Linked DNA regions of Homo sapiens: all the other regions are linked to region 3. The links come from fine-mapping of genetic effects on gene expression. A gene starts in region 3. Each other region holds a variant in brackets. All regions are shown on one strand. Distances are between the middles of the regions. Region 1 overlaps LRRC4B (leucine rich repeat containing 4B). Region 2 overlaps RRAS (RAS related). Region 3 holds the start of PRR12 (proline rich 12).

Evidence for each region.
Region 1: its variant is fine-mapped to the expression of PRR12 in gastroesophageal junction (GTEx, PIP above 0.99).
Region 2: its variant is fine-mapped to the expression of PRR12 in whole blood (TOPMed, PIP above 0.99).

The regions. Positions count from the first base shown.
Region 1 is chr19:50,551,927-50,560,098 of GRCh38, forward strand. All of the region lies in intron 1 of LRRC4B (leucine rich repeat containing 4B), which reads right to left. Among named protein-coding and RNA genes, the nearest start is that of LRRC4B, 12 kb to the right of the region's middle. RefSeq lists an enhancer at 1-747 and silencers at 4,336-4,445, 4,546-4,605. The variant C/T (reference allele first, on the strand shown) is at 4,724.
Region 2 is chr19:49,628,904-49,637,075 of GRCh38, forward strand. RRAS (RAS related) reads right to left here. Exons shown (of 6, transcript NM_006270.5): 2 at 8,140-8,172; 3 at 7,921-8,023; 4 at 7,716-7,824; 5 at 6,831-6,949; 6 at 6,389-6,757. The coding sequence ends at 6,673. Among named protein-coding and RNA genes, the nearest start is that of RRAS, 7.2 kb to the right of the region's middle. RefSeq lists enhancers at 3,673-4,172, 7,292-7,858. The variant C/T (reference allele first, on the strand shown) is at 4,171.
Region 3 is chr19:49,587,831-49,595,988 of GRCh38, forward strand. PRR12 (proline rich 12) reads left to right here and starts at 3,352. Exons shown (of 14, transcript NM_020719.3): 1 at 3,352-3,910; 2 at 5,497-5,609; 3 at 6,624-6,785; 4 at 6,867-8,158. The coding sequence starts at 3,825. PRRG2 (proline rich and Gla domain 2) reads left to right here. Exons shown (of 7, transcript NM_000951.3): 5 at 667-802; 6 at 2,070-2,222; 7 at 2,541-3,174. The coding sequence ends at 2,559. RefSeq lists enhancers at 897-956, 4,024-4,523, 5,011-5,090 and silencers at 2,171-2,270, 2,281-2,440, 3,301-3,630, 3,791-4,040, 5,601-5,700.

The DNA.
Region 1 (8,172 bases), 960 kb after region 3:
CAGCCTCCCTTCCCTGCGCCGCCTGGGGGAGGCCTCCCCCTCCCCCGCTAATCAAAGGCTCCGTTATCTAATTAACCCATTGGTTCTGGGCAGCCGAGGAGGCAGCCGAGGAAGGTCGGGGGAAGCGGGGGAGGAAGGTTGCCGGCTGGGCTGCCCAAGAAAGGGGGGTGGTTGGGCCGTGCCAAGCCGGAGCCTCATGGCACACAGACAGCCTCGTTGGCTGCATGACCGGGCTGGGCCACCACTGACCCCCTCGCCCCCACTTCCAGCCAAAACCCCCCAGCTTCACACCCCCCACTGGGTCTAGGCACACAATCTTGCCCAGCGTTTTCCTGCAGATGCCCCTGTACCCCAGGAACTCCTTTGAACCCCCACCATGCCACACAGCCTTTACTCCAACCCTGATATACCACACCTGATATACCGGCACTGGAACCTGCGCCCTGCACCGTCACCCCGTCCCGTGGCTGAGGGCCAGCCCCTCTCCATGCCACAAAGGCCCCCACCCCTAGAGGAACCCCTCTCCCTTGGACCTTAGCCAGATCCTGACATCCACCTCCTGACACACTTCTGCAAAATCTGCAGGGCAGCCACGTTCATTCATTCAACTTATCCGCCCATCCATCCGTCCATCCATCCGTCCACCCATCCGTCCATCCATCTGTCCATCCATCCATCCATCCATCCATCCATCCATCCATTCATCCATCCGCCCATCCGTCCATCCATCCATCCATCCATCCATCCATCCATCCATCCATCCGTCCATCCATCCGCCCATCCGTCCATCCGTCTATCCATCCGTCCTTCCATCCCTCCGCCCATCCATCCACCCATCCATCCATCCATCCATCCGTCCACCCATCCATCCTTCCATCCATCTGTCCAACAAATGTCTACCCAGTCCCTGCTATGTGCTAGACACTAGCCCAGGACACCCATGGGCCACAAAAGGCACCTCTCGAGAGTGGGGCACATTGGTGAGTGCCGAGAGGCCTGGGTTTGAGTCCTGACTCTGCTGCCACTTCCCGTGTAACCTCGGGCCGGTGGCTTATTCTCCCAAGCTGCAGTTCCCTCCACTGTGAAACAGGGATAATGGGAGTATCTGCCTCCTAGGGCCACTGTGGGGATTAAATCGCTAAATCCTTGGTAAAGAGTTCTGTCTTCACAACATATGCGGAATCAGACCCCAGAATCAGAGGATCTTTCTCCCCACGCCCAGGCTACTTCCCTGACCTGGCTCCCATCTCCCTCTTGAACGATTACAGTGTCCTCCCCTCCAGCCTCCCCATTTCTGCCTTCACCCCCACTCCCCGTGCGTTCCCCACGGGCAGCGAGGGGTATCCTGTCAACACCCCATGGACCCTGCCCCGCCTCTGCTCCACAGCCTTCCACAGCTCCCGTCCCACTCAGAGCAGAGATGAGGACTTCAGTTTTCAGGTCTCCACTCTCCACCCCAGCTCCTCCTCTGACCTCATCGCTTCCCTCCTCCCCCTGCTCACTCGCTGTTTCCAGAACAGGCCGTGCACACCCCGGCCCCAGGGCCTTTGCACCTGCTCTTCCCTTTTCCTGGAATGCTCTTTGCCGGTTGTCCACAGGGCTCTTGCCCTGCTCTCTATCAGGTCCGTGCTCCAATGCTACCTTCTCAGTGAGGCCGTCCTGACCGCCCCGCATCAAACAGCACCCCTATCCCTCTCCAGAACCTTCTCTGTTTCCTTTTTCTCCATGACATTTATCAGCATCTGAGCTTTTATATGGGTCCGTGCGCTTGAAGGCAAGTTTCCCGAGGGCAGTCAGTTTGTGACTATTTGGTTCCCAGGACCCACAACAGTGCTGGGCACATGGCAGTTGCTCACCAAACACTGGGTGCAGGGACGGATGGGTACGTTATCATCACTGTGAGTCTATTTCCCCCCACGCTCACACACAGATACCCCCACTCTCCGTTCTGCACACCGAGCCAGGCCGCACTGCAATAGCTGCACAATGCAGGCTCCCAGCCCTGGACACCCTCGGTCCCCAGGTCCCCTTCCATCCCAGGAGGCCTGCTGGCAGAGGCAGCACCTTTTTTTTTTTTTTTTTTTTGAGACAGAGTCTCACTCTGTTGCCCAGGCTGGAGTGCAGTGGCGCGATCTCAGCTCATGGCAACCTCTACCTCCTGGGTTCAAGCAATTCTCCTGCCCCAGCCTCCTGAGTAGCTGAGACTACAGGCGCTCACCACCACCCCGGCTAATTTTTGTATTTTAAGTTAGAATCGGGGGTTTCACCATGTGGGCCAGGCTGGTCTTGAACTCCTGACCTCCAGTGATCCACCTGCCTTGGCCTCCCAAAGTGCTGGGATGACAGGTGTGGGCCACCGTACCTGGCCGAGGAAGCACACATCTCACGTCAGCTGGACACCAATGTCCCGGGTCACCCTCCATGCCCTGGGTCACCCTCCGTGCCCCAGCACCACCCGGATGGCTAAGTCCCAGATACTACACCTCAGGTTCCAAACAGGAGGTCCCCAGCGCAGCTCCGTGCACCCAGAGGAAAGCTACCACTCTGCCCAAACCTCAGATACCACCTGCGTGAGCTACACTCCTGGATACAGCTGCATACTGAGAGGGCACCTGGCCCCAGTTGTCCCCAGATAGAGCCCTCTGACCTGGATAACAGGAATGCTGGCTAACCTCATCTCTTCCGCACACACATCTGACTTGCGTGAACTCACTGAATAATGACACCACCAAAGGTGGTAACGTCCAACACACATCTGGCACTGACTGGGCACCATTCTGGGAGCTTTACTTGCATTAGCCACCGCAGTTCACATCAACCCTCTGAGAGAAGACTGCTATTACACCCAGTTCCCAGCTAGCAAAGCTGAGACACACAGAGGTACTGTTAGTTGCCTAATGCGAAACACACGGCTAGGAAGTGGCCCCTCCTAGGTCAGCCTTGCCAGAGTCCAGGGGCCCCAAAGACCCCCAAGTGTGGCCTGACAGCAGCAACAATTCCCATGGAGGCTGCCTGTGTGTGGGGGGCAGGGTGCAGGCAAGGCCACAGGCATGCTGAACAGCCACCCTTCCTCAGCCCCTGCAGTCACCCGCACTGCACAGGATATCACACGCCCGACACCCCACCACGGCTTCACGCCCGGCTGGCAGAGGCTCCATGGACTGCCCTCTGCCCCCACGCACCCCTAGTAGTGATGGGAAATACTGATTACATGTGGGTGCCATGCTATCCACTCCTCAAGCTGCTGGCTTCTCCCCACGGCCCTGGGAGGAAGGGATGGTTCTTGTGCCCATTTTACAGATTCAGAGGTGAGCGGCACTTGCCAAAGGTTACACAGCCCTCCAGCAGCACAGCCGGCATTGGAACCCCAGTCCCAGAACTTAGCCAGGTCACCACGGTTGCCTCTCCCACCGCAGCTGCCCCGGGAGAGGACCCATCACAAGGGTACACCTGTTCTCCTCCCTCACCTGGTGCAAGGAACAAGCCAGAGGTGCAGACACAGAAGGACCCCAAAGAGGAGAAGTACGAGGGGCAGAGAGTGGCAGAGTCACAGGGAGACAGACACAGGCATACAAAGGGGCATGAAAGGGGCAGGAGGACAGGAGGCCCCGAGATGGAGCTGAGATCCAGGCGAAGGCAGAGGCTGGGAGGGCCCGGGCACTCGAGGCGTGAAGCTGAGTCCTCACCGGCTTCGCCATCCTCCCCAGCCCCAGCTCTGAGAGATCTCGGGCACTGTGCCTGGGAGGATTCAGGCAGATGGCAGATCGGAAACTCGGGGACCCAGGAGAGGCGGGGTGAGGAGAAATGGGAGGCAGGGAACGTTCCTGTCAGGCGCACTCATTTTTTGGGGTGGGGTGGGGGGCTAAATTCAGACGGCCAGAGGGAAGATAGGAAATTGACTACCATTGCAGCAAGAGGCCTGGAGGTTAGAGCTAGAGAAGAACTTCCCCACTGCGAGGGACTGGGGCAGAAGTGGAGCCTGGAGCCCAGAGGGTGGAGAGGGATTGAAGCCGGGGAGGGATGAGCCCTTCTGTCCCTGGAAGCCGGTCCTATGGGAGAGACCCGGGTTCTGGGGGAGGGGACAGGCAGCGCTGGCGTTCTGAGCCAATCCATGTCCTGAATGCTTTCAAAATAAAAGCAGCCCCACAGCGCCGAGAATTGTCAGGCTTCTATGTCTGGAGGTAGAAGAACCTTAGGGAAAGGGCAGTCCAGGCCCCCTAGGAGCTGCTGATGAGGAAGCAGGACTAGGGGCTTGGCTCAGCTCACGAATTTCCCGGGCCACTGGCCACTGGGCAGCAGGACCAACAGGCGGCCCGTGCAGTGGGGGTGCAGTCGGGGTGGGGGTGAGGTGCAGTGGGTGGGGGTGAGGTGGTGACTTGCTTGGAGGGGGGCTGTCCTTTCCCGTGCAGCCACGCCGCTCTCCCCCAGGCTCCTCCCACCCACCAGGCGCCTCCCACCCAGGCTCTTCCCATCCACACCAGACCCGTTCCCCTGAGGGGACTTTGCCCCTGCTGTGCCCTCGGCCAGCCGGGGGTGCTCTTCCTGGGGTCAGGGGGGGCTCTGCGTTCCCACGACACCTCCAGGAGGTCTTCTTTGAGCTCCCCCTACCGTCCGTATCCCTTGCACTTCCTTTTCTTCACAGCTCGTGTCACGGCCACCCAGCACCTGATGCTCGGTGATTTGTTCCTGCGTTCATTGCCTGCCTTCCTGCTAAGAGGGGAGC[C/T]CCTGAGGGCTTTGCCGCGGCGTCCACGGCTGCATCCTCAAGGCCGGCCAACGGCGCTGGCCCCTCCGAGCCTCAGTATTTGCTGCAGGAACGAGCGAGCCAGCGCCCCCTACCGGCAGTTCCTCTGCTGGCACCCGAGGCAAGGAGCCCTGGGTCTCTAGGGAGGCAAGTGTGGGGGTGGGGGAGCCGTCCGAGGGCTAAGTGAGAGGGCGGGCACAGGGTGGGCCCCGGAACGTCCAGGAGGGAAGCCGGGAGGAGGGAATGTCGAGCTGTTACAGAGGCCGTGGCAATGGGCCGGGGGCGGGGGGGCCCTCCTTCCTCTCACAACGGGCTGTGACAACAGAGGGGCAGGCTCAGCTCTGGTGGGTGAAGGACCCCTCTGAGTGGACTGGAGCGGCGCGGCTGGAGGCCAGGGAGGAGCTGCGCCAGGGGTCCGGGGGTAGAGGATGAGGCCGCGGCTGGAGCCACGGGGATGGAGAGAAGGGAAAGAGTGAACAGATAAAGCAAATTTGTAAAAGTGGCAGAACCTGGAGGCGGTGTAGGAGGTGAGGGAGAGGGAGGAGCCAGGCTCTTCTTATAGATCTGGGGTCAAATTCCAAAAGCCAGAAGAGGATGTGGGGCGGGAAGCAGTTACGGGGAGAAGAGAATGCAAAAGTCCCTGCCACAGGCCCCCCAGCCCCAATCTCCACTCACAGGCGGTGCCTCGCTCTGGTCACACCCACAGGGCAGCAGGGGAGCTGGGGACACACCGCCCACCCGGCTCCCGTCCAGTCCCTGGCTGTGCCACTTTGGGCCAGCTGCAGCCTCTCTGATGATGCTGCATGGGGCTGTGGCAAGGGGGCCCAAGTAGGGCCTGGCACACAGCAAGTGACCAGCAAGTGACATATAGGACTCGGAGCCTGGCTGGAAGCCAGGAAAAGCAGAAACCTGGGCTCCGACCCCCCGGTGCTGCCAATTTTCCGCTAGGAACAGTACCCTGTGGCCACTCAGTTTCCTCATCAGAGAAATGGGAATTAACAGCAGGTTTCAGAAGAGGGCTGGGAGGGCTGGGTGGGGGGTGGTGGGGACCCAGGAAGGGCTGAGGTGAGCTATTTACCAGCCAGCGGAGGACTACACTTGACCCTTGAAGGACAGGGGTTTGAATCGTGTGGTCCACTTATATGTGGACTTTCTCCTGCCTCTGCCACTCCTGAGACAGCAAGACAACCGCCCCCTCCTCCTGCTCACAGCCTACTCAACGTGAAGACAATCAGGGGAGCCCGTTACGATGATACACTCCACTTAGTGGCTAGTAAATGTATTTTCTCTTCCTTAGCATTTTCTCAATAACATTTTCTTTTCTCTAGCTTACTTTATTGTCAGAATTCAGGATAGAATACATTTAACATGAATGTGTTAACTGACTGTTTATGTTATTGGTAGGGTGTCCAATCAACAGAACACTATTAGGAGTTAAGTTTTAGGGGAGTCAAAAGTTACAGGCAGATTTTCAACTGCACAGGGGGCTGGCACCCCTAGCCCCCAAGTTGGTCAGGGGTCAACTGTATACATACACACACACACACACACACACACACATACACACACACATACATACATACACACACACACATCACACAAATTTCTGCTGGAGTGCAGTGGCGTGATCTCAGCTCACTGCAGCCTCCACCTCCCAGGCCCAGGTGATCCTCCCACCTCAGCCTCCTGAGTAGCCGACTACAGGCGTGGACCACTACACCCGGCTAATTTTTTTGTATTTTTGTAGAGATAAGCTTTTGCCATGTTGCCCAGGCTGGTCTCAAACTCTCGGCCTCAAACAATCCTCCTGCCTCAGCCTCCCAAAGTGCTGGATTATAAGCGTGAGCCACGGCACCCGGCTGTATTTCAATATATCAATGCATCACTGTCAAACAGACTCTCTGCAATGATGCAAATGTTCTCTCCGTGCTGTCCAGCACTGGTGGCCACCAGCCACACGAGGCTACGGAGCACGTGACGTATGTCGAGAAGGAGCAGGGACTGAATTCTTCATTCGACTTGATGTGACTGTTGCTGCTCATGCATGGCAGTGGCTGTGGCAGCTACTGTGTTGGACAGCATGGATCTAACCACTGATCCTGCTTGGAACTGCTTCTGCCTGAGTCCCTGAAGTGCCGCTCCGTCTGCTCCTTGGCCCTGCCCAGCTACCTCACAGGGCTCTTATGGGACTCATGGAGAAGCCAGGGAGATCACAGCTGGAGAAATGGAATGTTATGGAGAGTCTGAGGCCTGAGCACCTGACCAGCGCTGCCTTGGTTGCCTGTGCCAGGCCTGCGCTGCGGGAGCTGCCTGCAAGAGCTCATTCAGTCCCCGCAAGGGGCCCATGGCGAGAGCTGCTGCTGCCCATTTTACAGAAGGGCACACTGAGGCACTGCCATACCCATGGATAGCCAGATTTGGGTAGGCTTTGAGATAAAAACTGAACTTCCAAAAAAAAAGAAAAAGAAAAAGAAAAAGAAAAGAGGGCCGGGGGTGGTGGCTCACGCCTGTAATCCCAGCACTTTGGGAGGCCAAGGTGGGCGGATTACCTGAGGTCAGGAGTTTGAGACCAGCCTGACCAACATGCTGAAATTCCACCTCTACTAAAAATACAAAATTAGCCGTGCCTGGTGGCGGGCGTCCATAATCCCAGCTACTGGGGAGGCTGAGAAAGGGGAATTACTTGAACCGAGGAGGCAGAGGTTGCAGTGAGCTGAGATGGCGCCACTGCACTCCAACCTGGGCAACAGAGCGAGACTCTGTCTGAAAAAAAGGAAAGAAAAAAAACTGAACTTCCAGGTCCCTGGACTGTGATTCTGTGCTGGGATGGGGCGGCTTAACACCCCTGAACTGAATTCACCCCAGAAGAGAACTGGGCCCTGGCCTGGCATTGGTGGTTTTTACAACAGTATTTGTTGCCAAGGCTCAGGCAGTGGGGCGTGAGAGCGAGTTTGCAGGTTGGGAGGGGCGTGGCCCCCGCCAGCTCCACTCATAGGGGTCCTGCCTAGGAAGGACGCTGATCCGATCTGTTTTCTCTCACAGGGTTGTGCATAGTTATTTTGTTTACAACAAAAGGGTGCTGCTAAAAGTCATAAAAAGCTGAAAACTATGTGAACTGGAGCAATGCTTCTCAGACATGAATGTGTGTCCAGCTGTCTGGGAATCTTGTTAAGAGGCAGATTCTGGCCGGGCGCAGTGGCTCACGCCTGTAATCCCAGCACTCTGGGAGGCTGAGGCGGGCAGATCACTTGAGGTCAGGAGTTTTGACACCAGCCTGACCAACATGGTGAAACCCTGTCTCTAATAAAAATACAAAAATTAGCTGGGCGTGGAGGCACCTGCCTGTAGTTCCAGCTACTCGGGAGGCTGAGGCAGGAGAATCACTTGAACCTGGGAGGCGGAGGTTGCAGTGAGCCGAGATCGCACCACTG
Region 2 (8,172 bases), 41 kb after region 3:
AGCTGGGATAACAGGTGCATGCCACCACTCCCGGCTAATTTTTGTATTTTTAGTAGAGACAGGGTTTCACCATGTTGATCAGGCTGGTCTCGAACTCCTGACCTCATGATCTGCCCTTCTTGGCCTCCCAAAGTGCTGGGATTACAGGCATGAGCCACTGTGCCCAGCCAACCCTATCTCTCTTAAAATTACAGAAATTAGCCAGGCATAGTGGCTTGTGCCTGCTACTCAGGAGGCTGAGGCAGGAGACTCGCTTGAACCCGGGAGGCTGAGGTTGCAGTGAGCCCAGATCGCGCCACTGCACTCCAGCCTGGGCAACAGAGTGAGACTCCATCTCAAAAAATTTTAAAAAGGATCATGAACTTTCTAGAATCATTGAGTTAAGAGGGCTGAGTACAAACCATTATTGTGCTTGAACTGTGGCCTATAGCATGTGGGGGTGCAGCCTTTGATGGAAAGCCATACATTCAAGGTCCTGGACTAGACTGTCAAACTGAGGCCAAATGCCAGGTGACAGTGGCTCATGCCTATAATCCCAGCACTCTGGGAGGCCAAGGCAGGAGGATTGCTTGAGTCCAGCCTGGGCAACATGGCGAGATCCTCATGTCTCCAGAAAAAAAAAAAAGCTAAAATTGAGGCCAAAGGATTGGCATTGTCCCAGGTCAGAGTTCCAGGATGGAAAACGGGTGGAGTATTCTTTTTCTTTTTTCTTTTTGAGACAGAGTCTCGCTTTGTTACCCAAGCTTGGGTGCAGTGGCATGATCTTGGCTCACTGCAACCTCCGCCTCCTGGGTTCAAGCCATTCTTCTGCCTCAAGCTTCCTGAGTAACTGGGACTACAGGCACGTGCCACCAGGTCCAATTAATTTTTGTGTTTTTAGTAGTGACGGGATTTCACCATGTTGGCCAGGATGGTCTCTAACTCCTGATCTCAGGTACTCCACCCGCCCTGGCCTCCCAAAGTGCTGGGATTGATTAGAGGTATGAGCCACCGCGCTCGGCCGGGAGTGGAGTGTTGTGAGCGTGGACAGTGAGGTCAGGAATCATCCCTTTAGGGACAGAATCACCTTGTGGTTGGCCTTTGGCATCCAGCTGCCCAGATTAGAATCCCAGCTGCAGCACTAACCAGGCAGATTGGGTAACAGACCCCATCTTCACCTTTGCCATCCATTAAATGGGCTTTTGTCAAAATGAAGGAAGACAACCGGTTTGGAGCACCTGGCCTGCAGCTCCTGTGACCTGTAGCAGGAGATCTAGAGAAGCTTAACAGAGGTCCACAACATGACAGAAAACAAAGAGACACAGAGAAAGATAAAGATGGGGACATTGGCCGGGCGTGGTGGCTCACACCTGTAATCCCAGCACTTTGGGAGGCCAACGTGGATGGATCACCTGAGGTCAGGATTTCGAGACCAGCCTGGCCAGCATGGTGAAACCCTGCCTCTACTAAAAATACAAAAATTTGTCGGGTATGGCCGGGCACAGTGGCTTATGCCTGTAATCCCAGCAAATTGGGAGGCCAAGGTGGGACGATCATCTGAGGTCGGAAGTTCAAGACCAGCCTGACCAACATGGAGAAACCCCGTCTCTACTGAAAATACAAAATCAGCCGGGGTGGTGCGCATGCCTGTAATCCCAGCTACTCAGGAGGCTGAGGCAGGAGAATCGCTTGAACCCGGGAGGCGGAGGTTGCGGTGAGCCGAGATCGCGCCATTGCACTGCAGCCTGGGCAACAAGAGTGAAACACTGTCTCAAAAAAAAAAAAAAAAAAAAATTTAGTCGGGCATGCTTGCCGGTGCCTGTCATCCCAGCTACTTGGGAGGCTGAGGCAGAAGAATTGCTTGAGTCTGGGAGATGGAAGTTGCAGTGAGCCAAGATCACGCCACTGCACTCCAGCCTGAGCGGCAGAGTGAGACTCCGTCTTGAAAAAAAAAAAAAAAGATGGGGACATCAAAACCTGGAAAGCTTTAGAATCGTTGCTAGGGCCTGCCAGAGCTCAGGGGAGGGGAGGAACCGAATACATAATTTCTGGCACTAACAGTACCTAGGGAGATGCCAGCCTTTTTGCTGTTGTGTGTTGATCTTTGGGACACTGGTGGCTGTAAACCTTCCAAAAATGGTCTGCCAGTTGTCTTGAGCATTTGGGGGGCAAGCGGTAACTTTAATCACCTTCTCAAAGTGCATCTTGGTCCTACTAGAAGCAGGGTGCCCCAGCCAAGAAGTTGGCCCCATCGGGCAGTGCAGGAAAGACTCTGATCCTCTGCAGGGGGCATGTGGATGGTGAGATCTGGGAAGAGAGATGTTGGCACAGGACTCCTTCCTGTTGGGGGCTCAGTACCCGCAGCTGGGGCTTAGGTGGAAGTGTCAGAGCTTGTTTGGAAACTGATCAAAACATTGCCCACCCTCTTGCCCCACCACTCCCCATCCAGCAGGGGTGGACCCCTGGTGTGCAGAGTTCCTAGCAGGGAAGAGAGCCAACATGTGACAGTACATCCGAGCTGTACTTTTTCCCAGGGCAGAAGGTTGAGAACAGGCCAAAGATTCTGTGATAATAGAACCCGGAAAGGGATATTTAGCTAATCAGTTTTTTTTTTTTTTTTTTTTTTTTTGAGACAGAGTGTCGCTCTTGTTGCCCAGGCTGGAGTGCAACGGCACGATCTCAGCTCACTGCAACCTCTGCCTCCCGAGTTCAAGCGATTCTCATGCCTCACCCTCCCAAGTAGCTGGGATTACAGGCGCCCGCCACCACACCCGGCTAATTTTTGTAGTTTTAGTAGAGAGGGGGGTTTCACCATGTTGGCAAGGCTGCTCTCGAATTCCTGACCTTAGGTGATTCGCCCGCCTTGCCCTACCAAAGTGCTGGGATTACAGGCGTGAGCCACTGCGCCCAGCCTGCTAATCCGTGTTCTAATCCGGGATACAGAGGGACATTCATGGTTCTGGGGCAGAATGGAGACATGTCAGCCACAGTCATTGATGGTGAGCACTTAGTATGCGCCGGGCTCATTCCTCCTCTGCAATCGTCTCCTTTAGTCTCGTGCTCACCCTGTGAAGTAGCTTTGTACTTACCCCCATTTTACAGATGAGACTGAGGTGGCAGAGCTGGATTTGAATTCAGGCATCCCGGTCACGCAAAGGCCATGCTCCACCCTAGGACTAGGAAGCAGGTTCCAGGGTGGGTGCGAGTAGAGCATTCAGGGATCAGGGGCCTGGGTATAGGGAGCAGATGTTTGACTGCTGATAGGTTTCAGGTGGAGCCTCAAGTTCAGGGCATCGGGACATCTCGGTTGAGGTGTTTTGTTTTGTTTTTGTTTTTTTTGAGATGGACTCTCGCTCTGTCGTCCAGGCTAGAGTGCAGTGGCGCAATCTCGGCTCACTGCAACTCCACCTCCTGGGTTCACACCATTCTTCTGCCTCAGTCTCCTGAGTAGCTGGGACTATAGGCGCCTGCCACCATGCCCAGCTAATTTTTTGTATTTTTAGTAGAGACGGGGTTTCACTGTGTTAGCCAGGATGGTCTCGATCTCCTGACCTTGTGATCCACCCGCCTCAGCCTCCCAAAGTGCTGGGATTACAAGCATGAGCCACCGCGCCCGGCCGGTTGAGGTTTTTAGCCTGGTGTGTTGGGTAGATTTGGGGCTTTAAAGATGGCCGGTCACACAGGCTTGGGAGGTGGGTGGACAGTGGTCTCCAGTTGGCTTCAGCCTTCCAGGGTAGCAAATAGTGGGCAGGACTGCTCCTCCCCCAACCAGAGCTTAGGTTGGATGTGGGAGAGTCCTAAGTGTCCCCAGGCTGGGCATGGTGGATCATGCCTGTAAATCCCAGAGCTTTGGGAGGCCGAGGCAGGAGGATTGCTTAAAGGGAGGAGTTCAAGACCAGCCTGGGCCACATAGCGAGACCCCATCTCTACAACAAAATGAAAAATTAGCCAAGTGTGCACTCGTAGTCCCAGCTACTTGGGAGGCTGAGGCAGGAGGATTGCTTGAGCCCAGGAGGTTGAGGCTACAGAGTTGTGATCACGCGACTGCACTCCAGCCTGGGCAACACAGTGACACCCTGTCTCAAATAAATAAATAAAATGTAAAAAACGAAGTGTTCCTAGGACACAGATGGGCTTTGGGTATCCAGACTGAAGTGTGTCATCCATTTACCCACTGTGGCCTTAAGACAC[C/T]CAACACTTCTGCTTCTCCCAGGACAGAATAGGGGGTTGGATGGGGGATGTCCACACTGACCCCAAATTGGATTAAGTGTTTAGATTCAGATTTCAGTGCTACTGGGAACTTTCTGAAAATGAGGACTTGCCAGACGGCTGCTTGGACACCATTCCACCCACCTGTCCCTTCTCGATATACATTGAAGGTGAGAGTGGGACAGGCAGGGTTTGTAGCAGTTGCTCCCTGTCTCTATTTTTGTAGACAGAGTCTAGCTCTTGCCCAGGCTGGTCTCAAACTCCTGGCCTCAAGTGATCCACCCATTTCGGTCTCCCAAAGTACTGGGCTTACAAGCGTGAGCTACCACACCCAGCTGAGTTGCTGCCTGTCTCCAATGTCCTAGAACGTTCTATTGGAATGTTCTAGAAAGCACTATCCAATAGCCCACTCAGCAATGATAGGAATGTTGTCTATCTGCCCTATCTATTAAGATAGCCACTAGAGGCTGGGTGCGGTGGCTCACGCCTGTAATCCCAGCCCTTTGGGAGGCCGAGGTGGGCAGATCACTTGAGGCCAGGAGTTCCAGACCAGTCTGGCCAACGTGGCGAAACCCCGTCTCTACCAAAAATACAAAAATTAGCCGGGCATGGTGGCATGCGCCTGTAGTCCCAGGTACTCAGGAGGTTGAGGCAGGAGAATCACTTGAGCCCAGGAAACAGAGGTTGCAGCAACTGGAGATCCTGCCACTGCACTCCAGCCTGGGTGACAGAGCGAGACTCTTGTCTAAAAAAAAAAAAAGTCACTAGCCACATGTGACAACTGAGGTCTTGAAATGTTGATTTGACTGAGGAACTAAGTTTTATTAAAATATTTTTTATTTTGTTGTTGTTGTTGTATTTGAGACGGAGTCTCGCTCTGTTGCACAGGCTAGAGTGCAATGGCACAATCTCGGCTCTCTGCAAACTCCACCTCCCGGGTTCAAGCTATTCTCATGTCTCAGCCTCCTGAGAAGCTGGGATTACAGGCGCCCACCAATGCGCCCGGCTAATTTTCGTATTTTTAATAGAGACAGGGTTTCACCATGTTGGTCAGGTTGGTCTTGAACTCCCGACCTCAGGTGATCCATCCGCGTGGGCCTCCCAAAGTGCTGGGATTACAGGCGTGAGCCATCGCGCCTGGCCTTTATTTTTATTTTTTTTATTTTTTATTTATTTATTTTTTGAGACAGTCTTGCTGTCGCCCAGGCTGGAGTACAGTGGCATCACCTTGGCTCACTGCAATTTCTGTCTCCCAGGCTCAAGCGATCCTCCTACCTCAGCCTCCTGAGTAGCTGGGACTACAGGCATGTGCCACCACACCCAGCTAATTTTTGTATTTTTGGTAGAGATGGGGGCGGGGGGGGGTCTCACTTTATTGCCCAGGCTGGTCTCGAACTCCTGAGATTAAGCGATCTGCCCACCTCAGCCTCCCAAAATGCTGGGATTACAGGCATAACCCACTGCATCCAGCCAAATTTTATTTAATTTTAATTTAAATAGCCACATGTAGCTTCTGCCTACCATATTGAAGAGCGCATTCTATAACTTTCTAGGAAAAAAAATTCCTTCATCAGATGTTCAAAGTTTATCCCAAGAAAATACCCATAAGGTCAAGAGATTGAGACCATCCTGGCTAACATGGTAAAACCCCGCCTCTACTAAAAATACAAAAAATAAATTAGCTGGGGGCGTGGTGGCATGCGCCTGTAGTCCCAGCTACTCGGGAGGCTGAGGCAGGAGAATGGCATGAACCCAAGAGGCGGAGGTTGCAGTGAGCTGAGATCACACCACTGCACTCTAGCCTGGCTACAGAGTGAGACTCCATCTCAGAAAAACACACACACACACACACACACAAACAGAAAAGGGTAGAATCGCCCTGTTGAAGGGAAAGTGGGGGGTCTAGGCACTTGGTTATGCTTTATAAACTTCTTCTGCTCCTCCCCAAGCAATAGGTTCTAGATGCGAGGGTTCTAGGTGGAGGGAGGCCTTAGAACATGTGTGCCCTGAATTCGTTCACCTTCCCAGAGTTCATTCCCCCACCCTTTTTTTTTAAGAGATGGGGGTCTCGCTATGCTGCCCAGGCTGGTCAAAAACTCCTGGACTCAAGCGGTCCTCCCGCATTGGCCTCCCAAAATGCTGCGATTACAGGAGTGAGCCACAGTGCCCGACCCTCATTACCTTTTTAGAAAGCACCTCCTGACGTTGGCAGTGACATTTATTTTTCTGGGGGAGGGGAGTTATATACAGCAGTGACCCGGAGCCCCTCACCCCCACCAGGCTTAGGTGGGGACAGGAGGCGTTGGCAGAAGGCACACAGTGGCAGTAGCCCAGAAGAGGCCAGGAAGTAAGGGTGGGTATGTGATGTGTCCTGGGAGACCCAGATGAGGAAATTGAGGCTCAGTGAGGGCCTCAGGTCACACAGCAAGGTGCGAAGGCAGCTAGTCCCGAGAGCTTGTGGTGGTTGCTTCTCTCTTGCCTGGGCTACAGGAGGACGCAGGGGCAGCCCCCGCCCTTCTTCCTGGGGGCACTGGGAGGGCTCGGTGGGAGCTCTTGTTCCTGGTATTTCCTGTGGGAAAACGCCAGTGAGTTTGGAGTGGAAGGGCTGGGGACAAGGACGACAGGAAGGGGACTTGGCTCACCGGACAGCCCGCACCAGCTGCTCAAAAGCCTCGTCCACGTTGAGACGCAGTTTGGCCGAGGCCTCAAAGTAGGCCACGTGGTGGGAGGCGCCGAAGGCAGAGGCTTCTGATCGGGGGACCTGGGGGTAGGGGGGACACGGGGGAGTCAGGTCCCTGCACTCAGGGTGACCGCAGCCAGAGAGACAGACAGGCAGGCTGGATACTCTAGGAGAGGTGACCCACTGTGAGAACTCAAAGAGGAAGAGCTCCTGAGAGATTATGGAGGGAGATGCCGCAGGGGCTTGGTGTCTTCTAAGTAAGGGATGGGGGCAGGCTTCGTGGGCACTTGCCCTGCTATGCCTTAGATAACCAGGAGTGGGCAGGCAGGGAAGTCAGGGTGTTCCCGGCAGAGGCAGGCGGAACCCCAAAGCCTGGAAATCCCCAGAGCCTTTGCCAGATGGATGAGTTCTGTGTGGAAATCGTTGTGGGGGAAGTGATGGGAGCAGGGAAAGGAGGGGCGCAACTGTGCGGGGCATCTGGCACCTGGGGAGGAACTGGGGAGCCATGGAGGGGGCCGGCCATGAGCAGGGGAGGTGCTGGGGCTGGTGGGAGGTTGGCTGGAAGGGAGGAATGCGAGGAAGGGGCAAAGAGAGCTGGCGGACGGGGGGTGAATGTCCTTTGTTCCGTCCAGCAGCCTCTCCTGAGGACACTTGCATGCTAGGCCCTCTGCTCGGTGATGCCGGGGACCCTGAAGGTCCAGTTTGGGGGTAACCCATCTAGGTGAGCTGTGTGACAGTGGCAGTCGCAGCACTGCAGGAACAGAGGAGGATGCTGATGGGGGACAGGTGTGCTGGAAGGAGCCTCCCAGACTGAGATGGGGTCCCCAGAAAGAGGGGTGTCCCGAACCTGGCGCTGTGACTCCAGATCTGCCTTGTTCCCGACCAACACAACGGGGAAGTCGTCGCGGTCCTTGACCCGCAGAATCTGCGTGAAGAGCTTGCCCACCTCGTTGAAACTGCGAGTGAAGCCGGAGGCATGAGGTCCAGCCAGCTGCAGAGCCCAGGTCCTCCCCACACCCACCCACTGCTCCGCCACCAGCAACCCCTGTCACCTCTGCCGGTCGTTAATGGCGAACACCAGCAGGAAGCCGTGGCCAGCACGCATGTACTGCTCTCTCATGGCCCCGAACTCTTCCTGGCCCGCGGTGTCCAGGACTGCAGAGACAGGGAGAGGGGCCATCGTGGGGACCAGGCTCCCCGCAGTCACCCCCAAGAGCCCTCAGCCCCCACTGACACCACCCCCATCCATCATCCATCCTTGCCGCCCTCACTGTCCAGCCGGGCTGGGATGCCATCCACACTGC
Region 3 (8,158 bases):
CTGGTCTCAAACTCCTGACCTCAAGTGATCTGCCTGCCTCAGCCTCCCAATGTTCTGGGATTATAGGCATGAGCTACCACACCTGGCCAGGACATAGTTTTGTTTTTTTGGTTTTTGTTTGTTTGTTTGTTTTGTTTTTTTTTATTTTGAGATGAAGTCTCACTCTTGTTGCCCTGGCTGGAGAGCAATGGCTCAATCTCGGCTCACTAAAACATCCACCTCCTGAGTTCAAGCGATTCTCCTGTGTCAGCCTCCCAGATAACTGGGATTACAGGCATATACCACCATGCCTGGCTAATTTTTTTGTATTTTTAGTAGAGACAGGGTTTCACCATGTTGGCCAGGCTGGTCTTGAGCTCCTGACCTCAAACGATCCACCTGCCTAGGCCTCCCAAGTGCTGGGATTACAGGCATGAGCCACTACATCCAGCCTAATCTCATTAGGTTTTTACAGTGGGGTAGGGGTTATGGTTCCCATTTTACAGAACTGGCAGTGGAGGGTCAGAGAAAGGAATGAGGTGAATTTCCTGAGGTCACAGGGCTAGGAAGGGACCCCAGCTCTGCCTGCTTCCGGGTCCATTCTCTTCCCTCAGTGGGAAGGAATTTTGATGTTGGGGTGGGTGGCAGTCCCCGAGACAGTGTCTCCCCTTCCCTACTTTCCTGCAGGGCGTGGACGAGTGGATGTGGCCAGCCTGGCTGTGGGGCTGACAGGTGGCATCCTGCTCATTGTCCTGGCCGGCCTGGGAGCCTTTTGGTATCTGCGCTGGCGACAGCACCGAGGCCAGCAGCCCTGTCCCCAAGAGTAAGGGGGCTTCAGCGAGGAGGGGGTGGTGGTGGAGAGCAGGGGAGGGAGGAAGCATTGACCTAAAGGGATGTGCTAAGGATTGGGGGCAGGCAGGCACTGATGAAAGACCTAAGGACACAGTCATTTGGAGAGTGAGTCTGTGAGCTGGCTTGTGTCTGGTTTTGGCGACTGTCGCTCTGTCTGGATCCTCAGTACCTGGCCCGCAGTAGGAGCTCTGACCACTTTTGCTGCCAGCCTGTCTTTGCGGTACTGAGATTACCAGTATCCGTGGAATTACGACTCTGGATATTGTATCTGGTGAGGCTGCGACGGTGCAGCCTGTGGTGTCTTGGTGTCTGTGGTATGTCAGTTTCAGTGGTAACAGGTGCAGCACCTGAGTGGGTGTGGGAAATTGGTGAGGAGTGCGTCTGTGTTGTGTTCCTGTCTATATGGATGGGCTGAGTTCTGTCTGTTTGGTGTGTGTTGGCCTGCCTCTCTACAGGGCTGTCTTTTTTTTTTTTTTTTTTTTTGAGATGGAGTTTCACTCTCATTGCCCAGGCTGGAGTGCAATGGCATGATCTTGGCTCACTGCAACCTCTGCCTCCCGGGTTCAAGTGATTCTCCTGCCTCAGCCTCCAGTGTAGCTGGGATTATAGGCGCACTCCACTACGCCCAGCTAATTTTGTATTTTTAGTAGAGATGGGTTTCTCTATGTTGGTCAGGCTGGTTTCGAACTCCTGACCTCAGGTGATCTGCCCGCCTTGGCCTCCCAAAGTGCTGGGATTACAGGTGTGAGCCACCACGCCTGGCCCTTTTTTTTTTTTTTTTTTTTAAAAAAAGACAAAGTCTCACTCTGTTGCCCATGTTGGAGTGCAGTGGCCGGTTCACAGTTCACTGCAGCCTCAATTTCCTGGGCTCAAGAAATCCTCCCACCTCAGCCTCCTGAGGAACTAGAGCTACAGGTGTGCGCCATGCACCCGGCAGGGCTGTCTTTTTCTCTATTGCTCTGCCTGTATCTGGTGCACATGAGTGTGTCTGAATAAGAGTGTGTCTCTGTGGTTGCTGATTTCTGTGTCTACCTGTCTGTGTGCAGCTGCCTGTCATTTGAGGCGCTTTTCTGTGTGTAAGGCTAGGCTGAAGGTGACCCTCCTTTTCTGAAGTCCACCTCCCTTCCAGCTCTGTCCCAGTGTCACCCTGAGTCTCCGTCTCCTAGATCCCCTCTCTTCCTCCCTAGTCTAGGTATCCTGTAAGTTGCCTCTGCTAACTGTACCTTTGCTGTCCCCAGGGCCGGGCTCATTAGCCCTCTGAGTCCTTTGAACCCTCTGGGCCCACCGACGCCCCTGCCTCCACCCCCACCCCCACCCCCAGGCCTCCCCACCTATGAGCAGGCGCTGGCAGCCTCTGGGGTACACGACGCACCTCCACCCCCCTACACCAGGTATGGGGCGTGGCTTCTGCCCGGGGGCGGGGCGCAGAGGGGTGGGCACGTTGGAGGAGGAACCTGGGCTCAGGGGCGGGACTTGGAATTTGGGCCTTCTTACCTGGGGCGGGGCTTGGAGTGCGGGGGCGGGGCCCCATGCAATGGTCTAGGGGCGTGGCCCAGCGTTGTATGTGTGGAGCCGTATAGGAGGGTGGGGCCTGTGCCCAGAGGGTCCTGGATTGGCTGAGACGCCAAGGGCGGTCGGAGTGGTCCTGGTTGAAGGGGGGAGAAAAACAGCCAGATCTTTGACTCCCTAGTGTGCCTTTCCTCTTGCAGCCTCAGGAGGCCTCACTGAAGAGCTGCTTTCGAGACCCGGCTCTCCGAACCGTGCCCCTGATTCATACCGGATTCCGGAAGCCGCTAGGCCTCATAGACGCCGAAGCTGGACTTGGAGTGGGGAATGGTGGGAGTAGGGGTCATCCGGCCCGAGGCCTGCCCTGGCACACGCGTTTCCGCCGCGTATGGATATACACATGTTTTCGGCAACGTGTTCCCGTGTCCTGGCCCCTCACGGGCCCCCACACTCTCCTGACCGTGAGGGCACTGGTCAGTTCCGCCCCCGTGGTAGGCAGACGCGCGGGGAAATTCGGACCCAGGAGCCCAGCCCCGGCTGTGCCATCTTGTGTATGGGCAGATATGACCTGACAGCCCCCTCCAGTGCCACAGGGTACGCACACGCAGAGCCCCGCCTGTGCACACGCGTGTCTTCGTGCACTCCCCGTGCGGTACAGGGGCACTTCGTAACCCAGGGAAAGGGCGGGGGGCATATTTGCAAGCGCGCTCGGTGCGGGCAGGCTCGCATTGCACCCAGGGAGCTGGAGTTGAGCTGTTCCCCTAAATAAAAACCCTTCGGAAAGGAGACCAAAAAAAGCAGAAATAATGCAAAAAATAATAATGAAATGAACTGCGATCCCGGGCGCATCGGAACTGGTTTTCTGTGCAAACGCGCCCTACACCCCCAGGCCCTGCTCGCGCTCAGTCTCTCTCTCACTCTCCCTTTTTTTTTTTTTTTTTTTGCATTTGCACGGGATTGTGGGAGGAAGCGGAGCGCAGCCAGACACCCCGCCGCCCGCCCCCCCTTCCCCTCCCCCCTCCCCCAGCCGCCTTGTGCAAAGATGGCTGCACCGTGAGCGCAGAGGAGGAGGAGGCGGCGGCGGCGGCGGCGAGAGAGCGAGCACCCAGCGCCTGCACCCACCCCGGGGCCGCCCGGGACGCCCCCTCCCGAGCGCGCGCCCCCCCTTTTCTCTCGCAAGCGCCGGGGCAAAGGCGGAGACAGCGGGGTCCCTCCTCCCCCCTTCCCTCCTCTAGGGGGAACCCCCCTTCCCCCTTCCTTGGCTCAGCGACTGCACCCCCTCCCTTGCCCGCCCCTCCGCCCCTGCCCCCTCCCTCCCCCGCCCGGGGCCTTCCCGGGCCTTCGGCGGCTGCAAAGAAAAAAAGAGAGAGAGAAAAGGGGGGAAAAAAAAGCAGCAGCGGAGGGAGCGGCGGCGGAGGAGAGCGCGCGCGCGCCCCCTCCCTCCCTCCCTCCCTCCCCCTCCCCCCAATTTCCACCGCGGCCAATTCATGGACAGGAACTACCCCAGCGCCGGCTTCGGGGACCCGCTCGGCGCCGGGGCGGGATGGAGTTACGAGAGGTCAGCGAAAGCTAGGTAAGGAGCTGAGGGTGGCCTAGAGAAGGGGGCCAAGGGGTGGGAGCCCAGCCGGGCCGGGCCGGGCCGGGCCGGGCCCGCCCGGCGACGCGTGCATCGCAAACTCCCCTCCGGCTTGCAAGGGAGCGGCCTTCCTCGGTTTGTAACAACGCCGCCGCCCCAGTTTGCAAATTGCAAACTCCGCCAAAGCCAGCTCCGGCATGCAAAGGGAGAATTGCAGCGGGAAAATGGGGGTGCAAAACAATTTCGGACGGGAAGGCCTTGGGAAGGTGGGAGGGACTGGCGAAGCAAGGCCTGGACTTCCCCCCATCCTTGGATTCCCGGCTTGGTGACCCCTCCCCCCCGCGCCCCAGGCACTGCTCTTGCAAAGGTGGGAAGAAGAGAAGAATTAGAACGCAGATCTGGGGGGCGCGAACCCCCTCTCAGGTCCTATTGTTCCGGGACTGTGCGAGGCCGCGCCACTAGGCGCCCCCCCAAGAATTCCGCGCGCAGAGTGGGCACGGGGCCCCGCCCCCTTCCTAAGCTGGGGTTGTGTGTGTGTAAGGGAGGGGGTCAGGCGTCTGGGACACGCCCCCTTTAATGCCCCCACCCCCAAAGGCAGAGAATCCTAGTTGATCGCAAGGAGTGGAGCGTTTGCCCTCTTGAGTCTGGCCACGGACTGGTGCCGTTGCATGGGAAGAGTCGGATGTTTCCCGGGTGTGTGTTTGTGTGTCTGAGCGTGGGCCCTGTGCGTGCGTGGCTGGCAGCGTGTTCACCTGTGAATCTGCCCCTTTCCTGTTGCTTATTGGTGTGGCGCCCTCACACTTCACCTATCCCCAGCACCTCCCCCCCAACACACCTGGATTTCCCAGCAGGGCATAACCCCAAGTGTGTCAGGATTTTCCGTGTGGGATTCCTCCGTCTATATCTTTTCTTCCCCACGGGTGAGTTGGATACCCGTTTGCACACATACCTGGCATTGCATGGGCCCATGCATTTGAACCTCAACCCCCGGGGATGGTCGGTGTTCTTGTTCACACTTGTACCTGGTACTTTCCCCAGGTCTTATTCCCTCTTCTCTCCACCCCCCAAACCGTTGCCGCTTGGGAACCGATCTTCCTCCTGCTCCCAACTTGTTCTGCACCACCCCATGAAGTTCAGGGCCTATGTGTTCCCGTGTGTCTACGGAAGAGGAGGCGTCCATGTGGACCTCTGGCGTTGGCCCCATAGCCTGTGTCGCCGGAACGGGGGCTGGGGGGGGTTTGTGGGGTCGACGGGGGAGGGCTCTCATTTGCAAATCAAGACGCTTGCTCTGCCTTGGACCCTCTTCTGTGTGTTAGTCTCGTCTCTGAGCATGCCTGTTTGTAAACGTGAGACTATCCGGGCTCTCTTTATTCGGGCTCTGGAGTGGGGGCCATTTCTGTGGCTCTTTAGTTGAGCACCCCGATTCCCTTGTGTTCTCCCCTTTAGGGCCTACGGTTCCTTAGCTTAACACCCCCCACCCCGGTCAGCTGGAAGGGTCCCCCCAACTCCCCGGGGGGTTTTCTGAGCTTCCTTCTCAGAAGGCAGCTTGGAAGAACCCCCTGACGTCTCCCCTTTCCCCCCAGCTTGGTTTATGGCAGCTCCAGGACCTCGCACCCCGAGACGGACATCTTACACCGCCAGGCCTATGCGGCCCCCCACCCACTGCAAAGCTATGCCACCAACCACCACCCGGCAGGTACGGCCCCCATCCCGCCCCGCTTTGGGCTGGCCCTCCCCCTCCCCCCGAGGCAGCTGATTGGCTGTTGAAAGTTCCGCCCCTCCTAATTGGCCGTGGCCCGTGCCGTGGCCCGCCCCTTGCTGTGTCTCCTCTGATTGGTTGCCTTTGAGGCTGCTGGTCGCTGCTTCATTTCTCGCCGGATTCGTCCGCCCCTGCCTCGCCCCTCCCCTTTCGCTCCAATTGGCCCTGTTACCATCAGCCCCCAAATCCCACCTTCTCTTCCAGGCTTTTCCGCCTCTCCCCAACCCACCCCAATTCTTTCCCTCTGGGTTTGCCCTATTCTTTTGGCTCTTTGGAACTCTGAATTCTTTCTTCCTGATTCCCTTTCTTCCTGATTGGCTCTAATTCTCTGGCCCGCCCTGTTTTATCTTATTTTGCCCCATTGCCTTATTCTACCCACCTTGCCTTTGCCTCCAAGGTTTCTGATTGGTTCCCTCTTCCTAGGGGTACTGGTAATGACATGATGCTGTCCAGTTTGACCCTTGACCCTCCTGATTGGCTCCTTCCCTTTTTCCCTCCCCATCTTTTTTTCTGAACCCTCCCACTTAGCTCAATCCTTTCTGACACGTTCTCTGGTCTTTCTTAGACTTCATTGTCCCATCCTTTCCTCTTCCTTGCTGGAAATATCCAAATTTGGTCTCCCTCCCAGCCTTACTGAGGACTCTGTTCTTTTGCTCCTGGCTCTTTCGCTTCTAGATTTTTCTACACTTTTGTCTACCATTTCCTACCTGGGCCCCCTGTCCTTATGACTGGATTGCCCCTTGTCTTGCTTTACTGTCTCACCTTTCCCCCTTCCCTCCCCTCATTCATGTCTCATTAGCTTGGTTCTATCCATCTTGTTTTTGAATTTGCCCTTTTCTCTCCCATCCCCTCCTTTTCCTGATCCAACTTGCTTTTGGCCTCTTCCCTTTCTCTCTTGACTGTATCCTACCCACCCCCACCTGGCTGACTATAACCCCTGTCCCCGGCCAGGCCTCTCTGGACTCTTCGACACTGGCCTCCACCACGCGGGCTCAGCAGGGCCCGACGCCTCCGTCATGAACCTTATCTCGGCCCTGGAATCCCGGGGCCCCCAGCCTGGCCCCTCCGCCTCCTCTCTCCTCTCCCAGTTCCGCAGTCCTTCCTGGCAAACAGGTAAGCCCAGCGCCGGCCCTGCAGGGCCAGGGTGGGACTGGCTCGCTGTTCTCTCTGACGCGCGGTCTTCCTCATCTCCAGCCATGCACACGCCAGGCCCCACGGAGCTCTTCATCTCGGGTGCCCTGCCGGGTTCCAGCACCTTTCCGTCCTCATCTGCCCTGTCGGCTTACCAACACCCGGCTTCCTTCGGCAGCCGCCCCTTCCCAGTGCCCTCGTCCCTCAGCCTCCAGGACCCCCCATTCAGCCCTCCAGCTAACGGGCTCCTGTCCCCTCATGACGTGCTGCACCTGAAGCCCTCGCAGGCACCCACGGTGCCCTCTTCACTGGGCTTCGAGCGCCTGGCAGGGGGCGGTGTCTTGGGGCCAGCTGGTCTCGGTCCAGCCCAGACCCCCCCTTACCGCCCTGGCCCCCCAGACCCACCACCACCTCCTCGCCACCTCCCAACTCAGTTCAACCTGCTGGCTTCCTCTTCCGCTGCCGCCGCCGCTGCCGAGCAGTCCTCCCCACAGCTCTATAACTTCTCGGGTGCTGCCCCGGGCCCACCGCCGCCTGAGCGGGCCCTGCCACGCCAGGACACGGTCATCAAGCACTACCAGCGGCCAGCCAGTGCCCAGCCCCCACCACCCCCGCCACCAGCCCATGCGCTCCAGCACTATCTGAGCTGTGGAGGCAGCTACCCCTCCATGGGCCACCGGGCCAACCTGGCCTGCAGCCCCCTGGGTGGTGGGGAGCCCTCCCCGGGTGCTGGGGAGCCTAGCAAGGCTGGTCCCAGCGGAGCCACGGCTGGGGCATCTGGCCGGGCCACGGGCCCTGAGGCAGCAGGGGGCGGTGGGGCTGGGGGTGGTGGTGGAGGTTACCGCCCCATCATTCAGTCGCCTGGGTACAAGACGGGCAAAGGTGGTTATGGAGCAGCTGCCGGGGGTGCCACCAGGCCCCCCCCACCCCGTTCGACCGCCACCCCCAAATGTCAGAGCCTGGGTGGGCCAGCAGCCGCCTATGCCACTGGGAAGGCCTCTGGGGCTGGAGGGGCAGGGGGCCAGGCTTATTCCCCCGGTCAGCCTCAAGGGCTTCTGGGACCCCAGGCCTACGGGCAAGGGTTTGGAGGGGGGCAGGCACAGGACTTGAGCAAAGCCCCCAGCTACTCAGGGGGCCCCCCACAGCCCCCCAGCGGCCCCCCTCCTCCTGGCCTGGCCACATGTCAGAGCTACTCCCCGGACCAGCTGCAGGGGCAGCTGTATGGGGTGCAGGGCGAGCCATACCCAGGGCCAGCCGCCCACTCCCAGGGGCTGCCCACAGCCAGCCCCTCGCTCAGCTACAGTACCGGCCATTCCCCAGCGCTCTCGGGCCATGGGGGTGGCTGGGGACCCAGC